Linked DNA regions of Homo sapiens. The protein of the gene in region 1 interacts with the protein of each later gene in a biochemical or structural test. Each region holds a gene or a part of one and is shown in the gene's direction. Other genes may lie near its edges.

Region 1 (3,806 bases):
TAGCTTATAGAGACTCTGCTCTTCTTCTGTATTATAACTACCAAAATTATCATTTAAACTCCAGGATCATCTTATAAGTGAAGTGAAATCTTTGATGATTTAAATGCTCATGGATGAAATATTATGAATGCTGAAAAGGCAGCATGGTAATTTTAGTATCACTCTTTTCTGCTTAGTTGGTGATAAAGACCATGTTTACATTTGGCCAAATATTTCACTGGATAATTTCTGAGAAACTACTGGTCAAAGTAATTCAAAAGTAAATAAACGTATTCAGTTCCTTAATTGCCTTAACTGACTAATTTAGACAAAGCTGGTTTCATAGAAAGGGATATTAAGTTTGAGTTAATAAATAATTCACTCTTTAAAGCTCCCAATTATCATCGCAATTAGTTAATATTACTGAGCACTCACTGAGATTGATAGCAACACAGTAGCTCCTCCTCGTGGATATTAATCTACCAACACCATAGCATTCAGAACTGTATTTGTATGAAAACCACACTACTGTTAATAGATTCATAATAATCTCTACAAATTGTCAAAAAATGGCTGTACATATCAGACGACAATTTGCTAAGATGCTTCGTGTAGGGTTTATATTTGTTTTAAGATGCTACTCAATCATTTTTCTTCCCAAATGAACAGTGATAATACACAAAATGATGCCAATACCAAGGAATTCTGGGTAAACATGCCAAATTTGATGACTCACCTAAAGAAAGTGTCTGAACAAAAACCCCAGGCTACATATTATAACGTTGACATGCTCAAATATCAGGTAAGCCTATTTACATGATCGGTATCTCTTCCACATGACATATTTGTTTTCTAAAGTACCTACTATTGAATAAAAGTAACTAAAGTAACACTTCTTTTAACAGTATTTAAAAGCTATAACTCATTTTTTTAAATGGAAACTTTAAAAGATAACTTGGGGACTACTGACAAAAATATTCATACATATTCTTATTAGTTTAAGCTTACAAGTAAAATATTTTATCACAAAATTAGAGAAATGTGCCACAAAAAAATGAAGTTGCAAAACATTATACTAATTAAGATTATAAGTTTATATTGATAAACAAGATGATTATAATTTTGTTAAGAACATTACTATACTAAAACCTCTTATTTTAAATGATTCAAGGTACACAATCTGCTTTTGTTTTTCTAGTAAGATAGTCCTATGAAAGAATTCTAATAAAATCTAACACTAAGAAATAGTTCAATAATAAAGGAATGTTTGATACTTACAATATATGAGAACTTTCTTTTTGTATCTAGAATTGCCCTTATCTCAAATTATTATTGATATACTAAATAAGCCTAATTCATACCAGGATCCTGATAGTGCCTGAGTCTCTCATTGGTTCCCAGCCACTTGACTGCCTAGATTTTTTTGGTTTTTTTTTTTTTTTTTGAGACAGAGTCTCACCCTATCACCCAGGCTGGAGTGCAGTGGCACAATCTTGGCTCACTGCAATGTCCACCTCCTGTGTTCAAGCGATTCTCCTGCCTCAGCCTCCTGAGTAGCTAGGAATACAGGCATGCACCACCAAGCCCTGCTAATTTTTTGTATTTTTAATAGAGACGGGATTTCACCCTGTTGGCTATGCTGGTCTGGAACTCCTGACCTCAGGTGATCCGCCCGCATCAGCCTCCTAAAGTGCTGGGATTACAGGCATGAGCCACCACACCAGCTGACTCCCTAGATTTTTTTAAACTTTTTTATTTTTTAAATTGACAGGTACAATTGTATGTCTGTATTAGGTACAACATGATATTTTGAATATATGTACGTTATGGAATGACTAAACTAACATACGTATTACCTCACATAGTTATTTTTGTGATGAGAACACTTTCCATTCACTTTAGCATTTTTCAGGAATACAGTATATGGTTATTACCTACAGTCACCACCTTATGCAATCAATCTCTTGAATTTATTCCTCTCATCTAACTGAAATTTTGTGTCTTTTGACCAACATCTCTCTAAACAAACCCCCACCCCACCCCACCACCACTACCTCAGCCTCTGGTAACCACCATTCTACTCTCTAATTCTATAAGATCAACTTTTATTTTTATGTTATTTTATTTTATTTTATTTTATTTTATTTAGTTTTTTGAGATGAAGTCTCCCTCTGTTGCCCAAGCTGGAGTGCAGTGGCACGATCTCGGCTAATAGCAACATCCACATCCTGGGTTCAAGCGATCCTCCTGCCTCAGCCTCCCAAGTAGCTGGGATTACAGGCATGCACCATCATCCTGGCTAATTTTTGTATTTTCGATAGAGACGGGGTTTCACCATGTTGGCCAGGCTGGTCTTGAACTCCCAGCCTCAGATGATCCCCGTTCCTTGGCCTCCCAAAGTGCCACTGTGCCCAGCCAAGATCAACTTTTAAATATTCCACATAAGAGTGAGATCGTGTGGGCCGGGCGCGGTGGCTCACGCCTGTAATCCCAGCACTTTGGGAGGCCGAGGCGGGTGGATCATGAGGTCAGGAGATCGAGACCATCCTGGCTAACAAGGTGAAACCCCGTCTCTACTAAAAATACAAAAAATTAGCCGGGCGCGGTGGCGGGCGCCTGTAGTCCCAGCTACTCGGGAGGCTGAGGCGGGAGAATGGCGTGAACCCGGGAGGCGGAGCTTGCAGTGAGCTGAGATTGCGCCACTGCAGTCCGCAGTCCGGCCTGGGCGACAGAGCGAGACTCCGTCTCAAAAAAAAAAAAAAAAAAAAAAAAAAAAAGAGTGAGATCGTGTGGTATTGGTCTTTCTGTGCCTGGCTCATTTCATTTACCACGTTTTTAATGCATTATAATTTTTTATTAAATATGTTCAGATTATTTTTCTTCAAATGAAGGAAGTTGTACTTTAATAAAAATCAGGACATCTCAAACTTGACTGTATTTCTCAATCAAATGCTGGTTCTGAATTGATGCTAAAAAGAAATATATGTGTATACATATTTAAATAATATAAATATTTATTTATAATATTTACATATACAACCTAGATACATATAAAACCTATACAATCTATAACATATAAAATAACACATTATATTCATAAATATAAATATTTATACAAATATTTTAAATATAAATATTTATACAAATATTTTAAATATAAATATTTATACAAATATTTTAAATATAAATATTTATACAAATAGTTTAAAATATTATATAAAATATGCAAATATATAAATATGATATATGTGAATATAATACGATATATTATATGTGAATATAATATGATATATGTGAATATAATATATAATATATGTGAATATATTATATGTGAATATAATATATTGCGTATTATATGTGAATATAATATATTGCGTATTATATGTGAATATAATATATTGCGTATTATATGTGAATATAATATATTGCGTATTATATGTGAATATAATATATTGCGTATTATATGTGAATATAATATATTGCGTATTATATGTGAATATAATATATTGCGTATTATATGTGAATATAATATATTGCGTATTATATGTGAATATAATATATTGCGTATTATATGTAAATATAGGTAGAGATCATTATTAAATATACATATATGTATTTTGGGGGGTGTTAGGACCTAGCAGATATATATATTAAATATACTTTTTAAATTTTATTTAATTGGTTTAGAATGCCACCCAGGTATCTGTACTTTGTATAAGTTTCTCAAGGGAGTCTATGCATCCTCTGCTTTGGAAAACATTTATTTAAATTGTTGTAAGAAAACCATTTAAAGTGAAATATCTATAAAATGGTGTATTTTCCAGAAA
Region 2 (3,806 bases), on another chromosome or scaffold:
CTGCATAAAACTTTCAGGTCAAATGAGATGGAGAGGAGCAGGGACTTCATGCATTCTTCTCTGACCCTAACCATATGAGTATCACAATGCATGGTAGCATTCTAAAATGCCTTTAAGAGAGAAGCCTGTTTAATATTCATTTTAGCAGTGAGCCCTAACTCACTTGCCTATAGAACCTTTCATTCTTCATAATTTTTGTTATAGTTCTGAGGATAAACTTTTTAAAGTACTAGACTAGATTATCCTGACAGGTCCATCCTAACTCTGAGGTCCTTTTGATTTGTAGTCAACTTTGTGCTCTCCTCCATTAGTGATGTTTTCTCAAATAAATCAGTATCTGAACACTTACTTCCCAAGTATAAATGACATTCAAACAAGTAATATTCAAAGAGAGCAAAGCACTCAAGATATGAAGTGGAATTCCACTGGAATAGGCAAGGAAGTACTGCCTATATAATCTACTTCTGTAGACTTCTAGAATGTTCTAAAAAAGGAAATGGAAAACAACATGGATAATCTTCAGTCTCATTTTTATTAGACTTTATGAAGTCTAAGAATTTTTTATTTATAGGAATTCAAGTTTTAGTTAAACTAACAATAAAGTAATAAATACCATCAAAATATATACTCTCTGATAACCAAAAGAAGGCTAACAGATCTAATTATGTGCTGGTTAGGCTTTGACATGTTCTTATCTATTGACTCTATAGTCATAGGTCAAAAATAGATTTATCTCTACTTGGTAAAGCCAGCATGTTTAAAAATATTCAACTCTTTCAACAATTGCTCTGAAATATGTAAAGAGAGAAAGAAATCTAAATTACCTAGACTTTATTATTGGTCCTAGATGGTTGTCACTCCCCTCAAATTTATACAGAAAAGTTTTATGAGTTTCAAATAATGCTCATGTTGCAAACTATGTGGTATCCCCTAGAACAGAATTTTTATTGGCAAGCCCCTTGAGCATTATCCTTCCACACTGCATCTCAAAAAAGGAAAAGAAAGAAAAACATAAAAACCCATGTTCTGCAACTTTAACAACCACTTGAAAGCACAGTTACTATGGAAAGAATATAAGACATGATCTGTGATCAAGGAGATTAAATCTGGTACAAGGGATGGGATCAGGATACAAAGCAGGAGTGTCACTTATGTCCTTGTGTACATGCCATAAGATAACACGGGTGGGCACAGGGCAAGTGCAGACAGAAAAATCGATGCTAAAAGCTTTGTAAAGAATCTGAATTTGAGTTGGGTCTTTGAAGTGTGTAGGAAAATAGATCATAGTTGGGCTAGAAACAACGTGGGTCTTATTGTGGATCATTTGGAAATTTGGCCTAAGGAGGTTTATTTTAATATAGGGAGCCAGCAGTAAGCCACTTAAGGCTTTGAGTAGAGAAGTCCTCAGTCTGACAAACTGGAATGGTTAGGTGAGATTAGCCACCCAGAGAAGAGCTAGGCTATGGAACTCAGGATTTATGTCCGATTACTGGAGCTCCCTACGAGCAGGTTCTGTAACGCACTGCCGTGTCTCCAGTGCGTGCGGCTCAGGTGCTCAAACAGTGGCCAACTGGAGGCAGTGTTGACAGTTCGACAAAGAATGAATGAGGCGCTGACCAAGTGGGTGGATGAGGAGTCTTTGGGCTCTCAGTTGTAGTCTGTGAACTACACTTTTAATCTTGGATTAATAACAAACCCAGCCTGAGGAGAGCCTTATACATTTTACTTATAGGGTGACTATTCAGAAGTCTAACATTGTGGCTCCTGTTTGGTGTCCTAAGAACTTCTTCTGAAGTATTTGAAAACGAGAACTCTACCAGCTGTGAACACTCAACTGTTCTAACCCAGAGGTGGCTCAAAACAAATAAATAAATATTGAAATCACAAGCTTTTGTAATACATTTTATCCTACCTTTTGATTGTATAAAGATCCCTAGATTAATAGCTCTTCCAATCCATTTCTCTGATTAAATTTTTTTTTAATTATAAGCTCTTTCTTGTGACAAATTCTTCTTTTATAAAGAGAAAGCCTGGCTTTGGCTTATAAAAACTGTATTTTTATGCCTCACAGTAAAGGAATCCAAAAGATAGATTACCATTTAGGTCTGATTTTGCTGTCTCTTTTGTGGCCATGAAATAGGACTTAAACTTTCTAAACAATTGGGTATTTTTTTTTCTTTTAAAAGCCAAGGAGTTCTATTTGAACCCTTTTGTATTTACTAGTTTGCAAATTTTATATTCCCTTGAAGTTGTTTATTTTCCCCAATGATCAAAATATTTAGTATTCTGCTCAGGGTAATGCAAGATAACTACTATAACTTGCACTTCAGCAAGGCATTTTTTATCATTTATATTCTTCTCTGGGTAGCATAGTTAAGTATTTAATGGATCAAAGTCAAGCAGAAGGAAGTGATGTCAGTATGAAAGTTCTGTTCTAGGATGAGTTATAATTCTGTCTTTTACTGGAATAAAGACATGTCGGATTCATCAAATTTACTGCTTTTAAGCTGAGAATTTTTTATCAAACAGTTGAAAATCCAAAAAATTAACACACCAGAGAAATGATAGAGAGGGGATAGAATTAGTAGAGCTACATATTTGATATGTCTTTCAAATTAACTCTTAAACCCATGTCTCTACCTTGTACAATAGTCCCCCTTTATCTGCAGTTTCACTTTCTGAAATTAAGTCTGTGGTCAACCTTGGTCTGAAAATAAGTGAGTACGGTACAATATAATATTTTGAGAGAAGAGAGACAGAGAGACCACATTCAAATAACTTTTATTACAGCATATTGTTATAATCATTCTATTTTATTACTTGTTAATCTCTTATTGTGCCTAATTGATAAATTAAACTTTATCATGTGTATGTATATGAGAAAAATACTGTATATAGGTTTTGGCACTATGTGCCATTTCAGACATCCACTGTGGGCCTTGGAACATATTCCCTGAGGATAAGGAGGGACTACTGTATATAAATTAAAGATCAGTTGTTGGTTGACTTTAACCACTAAATAGATGAGATTACTGTCACAACACAGGCAACTCTAAGCAATGTTATGAAAAGATGTACAAATAGGAGATCTTAATGTGTGATTGACTAAATTAGATCAGTATTGAGTGTCTCTTTCAGAGGACATAGACAAAAAGGGTAAGCCCAGAGGAGAGACTGGGATGATGAGGATGAGATCCTACTTGACTATCAGCTTCAGCAAGAGCCTTAAATATTAAGAGACATACCTGAAGGCCGTGATATAAAAGAAAAGCCTCTCTCCCACCTCTAGAGGAAAGAACTGGACCGATTTTAGGGAAATGCATTTGATCTTAAATTTCATCACAGCCAGAACTATAAAATATGAATGTATTAGTCGATGAATTTTCTCATTTAGAGAGATGATCCTACATGACTCTGGGGGTACAATAGAGAGGACTGTATGTGTATAGGTAGGAAGCTGAGCTAAGCTTCTGAAATCACTTACTTTCAAGCTCAACATACTTTGATAATCATTTATAGTGACTCACAATCAATTCCCTTTAAGACTTTCAAAGTCACAAATTGAAACAATGCTCATAATGAATTAAGCCAGTCTGTATGTGTGAACCAGGGTGAGCAGAGACATGAAGTAAGCAACAGTAAGATTTCACCTAATGAGGTTGAGACTTAAATAAAAGGGCATGATATTGGGGAGGAATAGAAAGGACCTAGTCTATAGCTAGGGAGTAATGGACTACGGGGGTTGATGGAAGGAGGTAATGATCAACCGATTTATCAAGACCAAATTCAAATGGAAATTCTGATAA

Evidence for each region.
Region 2: the proteins of SGIP1 (region 1) and DAB2 form a complex in vitro, tested with the Homo sapiens proteins (one study listed by BioGRID).

What each region holds. Positions count from the first base shown.
Region 1 is NC_000001.11:66,733,100-66,736,905, forward strand, and holds part of SGIP1 (SH3-containing GRB2-like protein 3-interacting protein 1), read left to right. Parts: intron 1-648; coding exon 649-781; intron 782-3,806.
Region 2 is NC_000005.10:39,383,355-39,387,160, reverse strand, and holds part of DAB2 (disabled homolog 2), read left to right. Parts: intron 1-3,806. UniProt on the Homo sapiens protein: Adapter protein that functions as a clathrin-associated sorting protein (CLASP) required for clathrin-mediated endocytosis of selected cargo proteins.